Regions from separate parts of the Homo sapiens genome. Here region 2 is linked to region 1. Evidence: fine-mapped expression QTL. A gene starts in region 1. The other region holds a variant in brackets. All regions are shown on one strand. Distances are from middle to middle. Region 1 holds the start of PTGIS (prostaglandin I2 synthase). Region 2 holds the start of LOC105372651 (a long non-coding RNA gene).

What was found. PIP is the estimated chance that this variant, and not a neighbour inherited with it, causes the effect.
Region 2: its variant is the best candidate, but not a certain one, in a credible set for the expression of PTGIS in left ventricle (GTEx, PIP 0.58).

Annotation. Positions count from the first base shown.
Region 1 is chr20:49,565,034-49,570,408 of GRCh38, forward strand. PTGIS (prostaglandin I2 synthase) reads right to left here and starts at 3,104. Exons shown (of 10, transcript NM_000961.4): 1 at 3,010-3,104. The coding sequence starts at 3,083. LOC101927486 (a long non-coding RNA gene) reads left to right here and starts at 3,011. Exons shown (of 2, transcript XR_244188.4): 1 at 3,011-3,140. RefSeq lists enhancers at 3,404-4,020, 4,021-4,635.
Region 2 is chr20:49,590,488-49,595,862 of GRCh38, forward strand. LOC105372651 (a long non-coding RNA gene) reads left to right here and starts at 4,083. Exons shown (of 4, transcript XR_001754713.2): 1 at 4,083-4,342. RefSeq lists an enhancer at 5,274-5,375. The variant T/TC (reference allele first, on the strand shown) is at 2,861.

The DNA of each region.
Region 1 (5,375 bases):
GATCTCAGCTCACTGCAACCTCCATCTCCCGGCTTCATGCCATTCTCCTGCCTCAGTCTCCTGAGTAGCTGAGACTACAGGCGCCTGCCACCACGCCCGGCTAATTTTTTTTGTATTTTTTTTTTTTTTAGTAGCGATGAGGTTTCACCGTGTTAGCCAGAATGGTCTCGATCTCCTGACCTCGTGATCCGCCCTCCCGGCCATTGTCCTTCTTTAAGAATTTTTTGCTTGTAGTTGCATTTCTTAGTATCTAAAAGTCACATGGTTCTAAGACTTTTGAGTGTTCAGATTACCAGTATAATGTGTGGGAAGACTGAGAATTCATTCTTCCTGTGAATTAAAAATTCTTGCAAAGCCAGGCGTGGTGGTTCACACCGGTAATTCCAGCACTTTGGGAGGCTGCGGTGGGAGGATCGCTTGAGCTGAGTTTGAGACCATCCTGGACAACATGGCAAGATGCCATCTCTACAAAATTTTTAAAATTAACTGGGCATGGTGGCACACACCTGTAGTCCCACCTACTCAGGAGGCTAAGATGAGAGGATCACCTGAGCCCAGGAGTTCAAGGCTCCAGTAAGCTATAATTGTACACTGCACTCCAGCCTGGGCCACAGTGTGAGATCCTATCACTAAAAGTAAAAGCTAAAAATTCTTACAGCCCAGAGTTTTAATCCAGACAGACCTTGAGCAAGTTGCTTAGCCTTTCTGAGCCTGTTTCCTCCTCTGTAAAATGGAGATAACCAGAGTGTCCCTAGCTGAACTGGAAGGAGAAAGTGAGATTGGGGATCTAAACTGGGGTCCCCAGGGTCCATGCACCTACCCTCAAGCTGCCAGTGACCCTCATTCCCACACTTCTCCCCACTACCCACTGTTGACCCTTCCAAGGTGCCCACAGGTATAAAAATCAAAGGCTCAGCAGGGCGCGGTGACTCACGCCTGTAATCTCAGCACCTTGGGAGGCCGAGGCAGGCAGATCACCTGAGGTCAGGAGTTCGAGACCAGCCTGGCCAACATGGAGAAATCCTGTCTCTACTAAAAATACAAAAATTAGCTGGGCATGGTGGCACATGCCTGTAATCCCAGCTACTGGGGAGGCTGAGGCAGGAGAATCACTTGAACCCAGGAGGCAGAGGTTGCGGTGAGCCGAGATCGTGCCATTGCACTCCAGCCTGGGCAACAAGAGGGAAGATCCATCTCAAACAAACAAACAAACAAAAAAAGAGCCCATAACGTATTCACATGATGGAAGACTCCAGAGAGGATCAAAAGAATGGATTCGATCTCCTTGTAGCAAAAAGATCTGCTTGTAGCAAAAAGAACAGATGTCAAAACTAAAATCTGGAGTGAAAAGAGCAAGCAACATAATGTCTGAAAACATTTCTATACAGTGTATTGAGAAAGCCTGACAGGAAAAATAATTCATTTCTTCCCTGAGACATTTATTCACTGTCTTTTTCTTTTCTTGTTTTAAGGCAAATGATTGACTACACAGTTGTAAATTTCAGCTGAAAAGATGTCTGGAGGTTGAAGAAAAATACAGTGAGCTTATTGTTTGAAAATTCAACTACCATATTGTTTAAAAATCAAAAAGTTCCCAAGGTTTCCGGAATTTTCAGACACGAATGTAAACTAACTCTCTCTTACGTGGCTCTGTATTAGCTACAAGCTCATGTCTATGTATGTAAGAGTAATTTTTATGTAAGAGTAATTTTTAAAACATCTGGGAGACTGAGGAGGTATGAAAACTAAAGGCAATGTGGTAACTTGGGGCCGGATCCTGGAACAAAAGAGGACAGTAATGGGAAACTGGATAAAATCCCGTGAAGTTTGAAGTTTAGTTAAGAGTAACGGACCAGTGTTGGTTTTTAGTGGCGACAAATGTCCCATAACAATGTAAGATGTTAACAATAGGGAAAACGGGGTGAGAGAAATACAGGAACTTTTTGTACTATCTTTGCAACTTTCTGTAAATCCCAAACTAGTCTCAAATAAAAAGTATATTTTTTTAAATATGGAAGGTTCTACCCAGACTCAGCAACAGGAGAGGCCCAGAGAGGGAGAGAGGACTAGACTTCAGGGGCTGGGGGAGGGTTAAGGGGCTTCGGTCTTACCTATAACAGGATAAATATTTGTGTTAAGTCGAATGTATTCAGCTATTCCTTATGCAATTCAAGTTAACTTAAAAAATATTTTATGAAAAGGAGAGCTACAGCTATCTCCTTGATTTGAGGCTGTCTTTACTTTTTCTCCTAAATCACAGATGCTCAATGGAGCTGGAAAACCTTTGGGACCAGGAGGCTGTGACATCTGACCCTGGCTCCGTTCTGTCCAGGCTGTGGGACCTCAGGGGAAGGTAGAGACTTCATAGGCCTCAGTTTCTCCCTGGCAAATGAAATTACTAAGCCCACCGACCCCCGTCTTCCAGACGGGGAATCCCGGGGTGGGTGGTTCCAGGGCATGATCAAGACATCCCCCAGGGGCTCTACACTCCGCTGGCTCAACACTCCCATCTGTGTAATGGGTTGAGGAGCGAGGCTATCCCTATAGGACTGCCGAAAGCAAGGCAGGGTTTGACAGCGCGTAGGTGGGTGCCAGGTGCAGGCAGAGGCTGGAGAGTGGAGAGCGCTTCTTCCACCCGGGCCACGCAGAGGCTGTCCCCGCACGGCTCCCCACCCACAAACCCTCGGTCCTCACCTGAAACCCCCTCCTAGGTCCCTGCCGTCGCGCTAAGGGCCAGACTCGGACTTGTCGCGGTGGGCGATTCGCCCCGGGGGACCTACCGGACCCCGCACCTTCCCACCTTGCACCTTCTTGGCAGGGGGAGCACGGCCTGGCCCCCTCACCCACGTGCGGGGCCCCGGGACTCCCACCTCCGAGGGTCTCGCCTTGCCCGGGATACTGGAGCGGGACTCGGGCCGGGCCGGCCGCGGGCTCCGAGACCCTTGGGCTGCAGCCCGGGCGGGAGCCGCCCCCTTTGTCTGGCGGGGCCGAGCGGAGCAGGACACTCACCGCGTGCGGCGGCGGCTCAGTAGCAGCAGCAGCAACAGTGCGGCCAGGAGGCCGAGGAGCGCGGCCCAAGCCATCGCGGGGCTGGCGGGGCTGGCGGGGCTGGCGGGGCTGGCGGCCTGGCCCACTCCCAGGTAAAGTTCCCCGCCCCCACCCGGCGCGCCCCTCCCACTCCGCCCACCCCAGCCCGCTTTGGGGCGGGGTGGGGGGGGTGGGGGATGGGGCCCTCCGAGGTCCGCAGGGGTCGGACCGGGGCGCTCTGTTAGAAACCCTGCTCCCCCCAGCTCAGGCCTGATGGAAAATGTGGGAGGGAGGGGAGGGGAGAAGGAGGGGGAGGGGGAGGGGGCGGAAGGGATGTGGTGGGCTGGGGAGTGATCAAGGGGAAAGGAGATAGATGGGGGACTGAGGGGGATGTGGTGGACTGGGGGGTGATGGAAGGGAGGGGAGAGGGAGAGGATTTACAGGAAGGAAGAGATTATATGCGGGGAGGGAAGAGGGATGGGGAAGATGGGAGAGGACTTTTGGGGAAGGGAAGAGGAGGGAATGTGGGAAGACGGCGGGACGATGGGGAAACAGCCAAGGAGGTATGGGGAGGAGGGGGCACAGTGGGAGGAGAAAATGTGGTGGGAGGGGACGAACATGGAGGAGGAGTGTAAGGGGGTCAGGAGGAGCTTTCCCACCACATTCCACATTCCACCTAGACAGAGGAAACCCCCCAAGGCTCCTCCTCACCCCATCCCCCACCCCAGGCGTGCTGGGGACCTGGAGTTTTCCATTCTGTGGTCTGGGCTGGGAGGGCTGGTCTGGATTATATCGCACCCTATAGTATCTTCAGTAACTACTGGGCAGGGGGTACAAGGGTGTCTCAGGGAGTCCCCTCATCCTCACCTGCTTTGGGGACAGATAGTGCCCGTGAAGTATGCACCCTCTACCTGGTGCACGTTAGGGCCTCCGGATGTGGTGGCCATTGTCATCGCTACCTGGTGCTTGGGGTGCCAGCCCCCTGTGCCCGCGGCTCTGCAATGTACCACCCCAGGGTGCTGATGAGAACTGGGGGTCAATCCAGCCTCACTCCACGCCCCTGCCCCCACCATCCCCATTCCCACCCTGGGAAGCGTTGGGCAGGTAGCTCAACCTCTCTGAGCTCACCTCATTATCTGGAAACAGGGAGGGCAGAGTTGTGCTTACCTCTGGGGCTGTTGTGAGGAAGTGATGAGAGCTTGACACTAAAAGGAATCACAAACTGTTGAGTGCTTGGCACACTAAGTTTTATGAAACCATGGGCTGAACCTGGAGGTAAGACCCAGGAGGTCTTGTTCTAGTCCTGTATCCACCCATTCAGTGCCGGGTGAGCTTAGGCACGTTTCATTCCATAGTCCCAGCAGAGCTCTGGAGAAGCTGTTGCTCCTCCTGGTCTCCTGGCTTCCATCCTTATCAGCCAGGGTCCTGACAAGGCCCTTCGAGAACCAGCATGATCCGCCCCTTCTCACCTTTACCTGCCTGACCCTATGCCCCCGACTCTCTCCCTCACCCACTCTGCTCCAGCCACACTGATCTCCCCATCTTTCCCTAGAGGTCCCACTGCAGGGCCTTTGCACGTGCTGTTCCCTCTGTTCGGAGCATTCTTCGCACAGCCTGCTCTTTCCACCACCTCCCCGGTGCCTCTATCTCTGCTCAGCTGTCACTGCAGAGAAGCTGTCTTTGGCCACCTGGTCTAAAACAGTCATCTCCTCTTACTGATTTTTGTTTCTTTGTTTTTTTGATAGTTTTTTTTTCTGGCAGTACTTCACATGTCCTGCTATCATACTCAAGATTCATTCATTTGCCTGCTTAATGTTGGCTGTCGAGGCAGCTGGATGACCCCCTTGTGGCCTCAGCAGATTCAGAACAGCAGGAGGCAAAAGGAGTTTTCTGATCCTCTTGTTTATTTTTCCAGCTTATCTGCCAGAGAAGCCAACAATCCCAAGAAGGCCATAGAACGGGTCCAGAGGATTTTCTCCAAATTTGGGGAGCTCCAAAGGGCTGTCTGCTAGCAGTGGGGTTCACAGCTGGGCTTGGCCGATCCTCAGCTTTGTGACCCCAAGCAGACTGCTCCACCTCCCTAAGCTGAGGTTCCTCATTGACAGAATGGGGAAAAGAGAACCTCATGGAGTTGAGGTCAGGAACAAACGACCTGGTCCATGGGGCACACCTATGTGAGTGCCTGTCACACCATGAGCATCAGGGAAAGTTAACCGCAATTAGCGCTTATACCAGTTCCGCTCCTCTCCATTATCTGTGATCAGGCTTGGTCTCAATTTTCCCATCTGAAAAATGGGAAGAACAGTTCCTTCCTCATGGGGCTGCTTTGAGAACTGAATTAAATGAAA
Region 2 (5,375 bases), 25 kb after region 1:
ACCCAGCCTCAGGTATTTCTTTATAGCAGTGTGAGAACAGACTCATAGTTTCCTTCATTGTACTTGTGACTTGATGAAATGATTCTGTTTGATTCTTTGCCGGGTTGTTGTCAGCTCCATAAGAAGAGGACTTTATCTTGTTCTCTGTGTACAAACACATAGTAGGTGCTCTGTAAGTACTTGTTGAACAAACATGTAAATGAATGAATGAATGAGAGCCAGTGTGATTTGGATGACTGCGTGCATGTGCTAAGTAAACTGTTTTCCATGATCTCTGGGGTTGTGTGTGTGTGTGTGTGTGTGTGTGTGTGTTCAGTTTGGTTTTTGCCACATCTTTATACCCTCTGTTCTATTACAACTTAGCATTTTTCTTTTTATATAAAGAAACTCATTTAAAGGAATCTTGACAATATCACTAGAAACAGAAAGCCAGTATCAGCACATACTTGCTATAAATAGCAAAAAAAAAAAAAAAAAAAAAAAAAGAAAAGAAAGAAAGAGAGAGAGAGAAAGAAAGGAAAACCCTATGCATATAAATTCCATGAAGATGTGAAAAAGTTATCAAATTCTCACAGGGTATGATTGCTACTGTAGTTTCTAAGCCTGAGGCTTTAGAAAATCGATACTCTCTTGAAAAAAAAAATTTAAGCCTGAGGCTGTTGTGTCTTTCTTAAAAAGGAGATTGGCAGGTGTCAGAGAGGTGTTCAAGACAAGTTAACTCCAACCCGAGGCTTTCTCAATGATCTTTCTCCAATTCATCCCAACACCCACTTGCCGCAGACCCTGTGGAAGGCCCCAGATCCAAACTCCCTTCCTGCTAACAGCAGCTGTCTGGGGAGATTTCCTTCCAGTTGAGCCATCCAAGGACTCCTCCCCAGCCCTTATCTGTGGAATGGAAAAAATACTAGCCCACACCTCATAGATTAAGAGAATCAAATGAGCTCATTTATAGAAAGCACATGGAACAATGACAAGCATGAAATAATAGTCACTGATGTTTACTGAGACTAACAGCATGTCACACCCAGTGCAAAATGCCTCACGTCCTCCCACAGAGTCTTCATAACAACCTTTAGCTCATGGAAGTACTATTTTTACCCTATTTGGCCAATGAAAAAGCAGAGGCCCAGGAAGGTGAAGTAACTTGTCCAAGGTCACACAGCAAGGAGGCAATAGAGCTGGGATTTGAACCCCGGCTGCCTGACTCCAGAGCTGTACAAAGCCAGATACCACAGAGGCTGGGTTATTGTTCGTCCAGACCCATGTTCCCACAGGTCCTCTCATCCCTTACCTGCTCCCTTTCTACCTTGTATTTCTATCCTCCTGCTCTGAGGAGATTCCTCTCCCTGAAGATGCTTGGGCTTGAGGGAACCAGGAGGAGAGGAGGTGAAGTTGGCCTGGATGACTCTGTGGTCAGGATCCTAATGACCCAGTAATTTTCCTCCAAGTCCAGTATTCTCAGGATTAAGTCCTAATCATCCATCTACCCACTCACCCACTCATTCATCCATCTGTCCATCCATCTATCCATCCATCCATTCATCCACTCACCCATCCATTCATTTACTTATTCATCTATTCTCCCATTCACCCATCCATCCACCCACCCACCCACACATCCACTTATTTACCCACCCATTTCATCCATTCTTCCATCCACCCATCTATCCATCTATCTATCCACTCACCTGTCTATCAATCCATCCATCCATTTATCCAGCCATCCATTCACCCACCCACCCATTCATCTGTCCTCAATCCACTCACCCATCCACTCATTTACTCACTCATTCATCTATTCTCCCATCCACCCTTTCATCCACTCACCCACCATCCATCCATCCATCCATCTACCCATGCATCCATCCATCCACCCATCCATCCATCCATCCACCCATCTACTCATTGACCCACTCATTTCACCTATTCTTCCATCCACCTATGTATTCATCCACCCACTCACCCATCTACTCATTCACTCACCCATTCATCTATTCTCCCATCTACCCCCATTCATCCACCAGTCCATCCATCCATCCATGTAACATTTACTGAAGGCTCACTACCTGCCTGCAAGGTTCAGGTGAGGGACAGAGCAGGACTGTACAGGTGTCTCTCAGCCTCTACCCTCCCTCATTCCTGCTTCCATCTTCTTCTGATCTGGGATAATTCCTCTCCTGGGAGATCCAAGGATGATGGGGAGCAAAAGGCGGTGGGGTGAGGGGTTGGGGCTTCGGCACTGCCTCTCTACTGAGGCCCCAGTCCCTTCTCTGTATGGACAAAATGGAAACTTGTGGTTTTTCTTCCTGCATTGAACCAGCAGGCTGAGCTGGGGCTGAACTCCTGGGACATTAAAAGGGGGTGAGAGGTGAAGATGCATCCAGGTGGGGGGTGTGTGTGTGTGTGTGTGTGTGTGTGTGTGTGTGTGTGAGAGAGAGAGAGAGAGAGAGAGAGAGAGAGAGAGAGGAGGTGGAGGGCGAAAGGCCTGTGCATCTCTGTCTCTGTCAGGCACACAGAGAATGGCAGTGGTGAGCCTGCAATGTATTGGGAAGACATTATTGTTTGCTCAGAAATGGCCAAGAACCCCAGCTCCTCCCTGCCAGGAGACACAGGATTCTGCGCCTCCAGGCACAACCGTCTTCCCTCCCTTCCACTTTCCTCCCTCCTCCTCAAACCCTTGCCCAGGTGCCCCCCGGCTGGCTGGGTTCACCAGAGGATAGATGACCACATACTAATCCCAGCCTCCTGTGGAGGTTAGTCCCACCCTCCACCGAGGTGGAAAATTCCTGCAGGTAGAGTCAGCAGTGGTTCAAGTCCCACCGTTGTCCATGAGATCGGACTACACAGCACACACGGCCGC[T/TC]TTTTTTTACCTACCACGTGTCCCACGTCTCCTACAGTCCTTTAATCCCTGACCAGTCCTTCAGAGGATGGACACGCTCTGATCTTTGTAGCCTCTCTTTCTCTCCTCAGGGATCACACCTCACTGTAGACCACAGCCCAATGTCCCAGGTGACTCACTTACTAGAATTTGTAATTCACTTCATCCTGCCACCACGCCCCTGTGAGCTAGACACCCAAATTGACTCCATTTTACAGATTTGGAGACTGAGGTGCAGAGAGATTAAGTCCCTGTCTGAGGTCGCATGGTGGATGAGCAGCAGACACCCTGGCGGGCAGCCTGGCTCCTGAGCCACGCGTCACCACCGTCTTAGTGGAAAATCGGCCACAAGGAGGGATTCCCCTTCCAGTCTCCTGGCCCTTGCCAAAGGATCCATACTAGACATGAGAGGAGGAAGGGAGTCCACACCGAGTCTGGCCTCAAACCCTCATTCCTTAGGAAACTGCGCTAATGTCGCCCCCTCCCTCCCTGTGACCACCCCAGGTTGTATCTGCACCTTCCCAGCTAGCCCAGGTGTCATTACATATTTATCTGTTGATCACTCGGCTCCAGGGACTGCCATATCGGCCCAGGAAGTCACGATCTTGTCTGTCTGGTTAGGGGCTGTGGTCTGGCACTGGGCACATAGTCAGTATTCAATGAATTTTGGCTAAAGCCCTTTTGGATCGATCATCTATTGCCAGTGTGGCTCAGATGCAGCCCCCGCCACTGACTGTGTGACTCTGGCAGGTCACAACCCCTCTCTGAGCCTCCCTTCCATCATCTGTAAAACAGACTTATCTCTGAGTCCTACACATGTTAAACACTCAAAGGATTTCTGTTGCATGAATTAGTGAAATCCGAGCTGGAAGGGCCTCTAGAGCCCAGGGTTGCAAACTCATAGACTCCAAAAGCCAGGCAGGAGCCAGAAACCACCGAGGGAGCTGGGTGGGGACGGAGGCAGCTGCTACTCAGCTCTAGTCACAAGCACTGCCATATCTGGTTTCTCAAGAAAAACCAGAAATCTAGAGATTTACAAGAAGTTTCCCAATTTCTAAGTATTGGCAACTAATTTAAAACATTTAAACACATCTGTGGACGGGATGTGGCTGCAGGCCGTTTCTTTGCAACTCATGATTCATCTAACTGCTCGTGGCACAGATGAGATCAAAGCCCAGAGAAGGTGAGCCACCAGCCCCAGGTCACAGAGCACAGGAAGTGAAGAGGAAACAGTGACCTTTCTCCTTCGGCTGCAGCCCTGTTGCCCAAGCTCAGGGCAACCCCTGAGCCCTGATCCCAAGGGAGGCAGTGCCGCCTTCTCCTCTAGGCCTGGCAGTTCCAGGGTGACAGGAAGGTCACGATATCTCTGTTTGGGTGCACTGCAGCCTCCGCTTCCTGCCAGGACCAGGCTGTATCAGGCACTGGGATGAAGAAAACATTCCAAGCAATGGGCTGGCCTAGAAGGTAAGAGCTGGTGGCAGAGAGGGGGTAAGCACACCCCTTCCTTACTTCAGGGACGTGCAAACCCCTTCAGCAGGCCTGGGCAGAGCTGGGAACAGGGCGGATCAAGCCCTGCTTCTGGAGAAACATGCTCTGCCATTGGAGGCTGGGAGCTCTGTCCCCGCATGGCTCGTAGGACCTTGGAATGCATTTGTCCAGCAGCTTCTAATACACCAGGCCCTCATCTGACCCGCACCCCCACAACCTCCATGGGCTCTCCTCCCTCTGTCCCCTCTTGATCTCTCTACGCAGGCACAATGGTGCCTGCTCAGCCCTGAACACAGCAGCCCTGCTCCCACCTCAGGGCCTTTGCACACGCTATTCCCTCTGCCTGGTTCACTTCACCCATTATGCAGATGGCTTACTGTAGACCTCTACTTGAATGTCGCCTTCTCTGTGAGACCCTCCCTACCTGTTCACTCTGTTTAAAAATGCAAACATCCCCCACAGTCCTTAGCCTCCATCTGGCTTCCTTTGACCCTGCTGTGCTTAGGATGGTGGGACACATATGTTACACGTGTTTATTTGTGTTTCCCTTTCCTGTTGCTGCTGTAACAAATCGCCGTGAACTTGGGAGCTGGAAATAACATGAATGTGTGAGCTTACAGTTCTGGAGGGCTGAAGCCCACAGTGGGTCTCAGCAGGCTAAAATCAAGGTGTGGGCAGGACCACGTTCCTTCTAGAGGCTCACAGGGAGAATCCGTTCCTCCAGCTTCTCAAGGCCACCTGTATTCCTGGGCTCACGGCTCCAACCTCCATCTTCAAAGCCAGCAACGGCGAGGCCATCTTTCCCATGCTGCATCCCTCCGCCTGCAACACCTCTGCTTCCCTCCTGCACTAAGCCCCTTGTGATGACACTGGGTCACGATGTCATCATCTGGGTAATCCAGGGTCGTCTCCCCCAGCTCAAGGAGACTGCTCAGCAGCCTCCATTCCCCTTGGCCGTGTAACCTTGTACATTCACGGGTTCCAGGGATGAGGACGTCTTGGGGAAGGG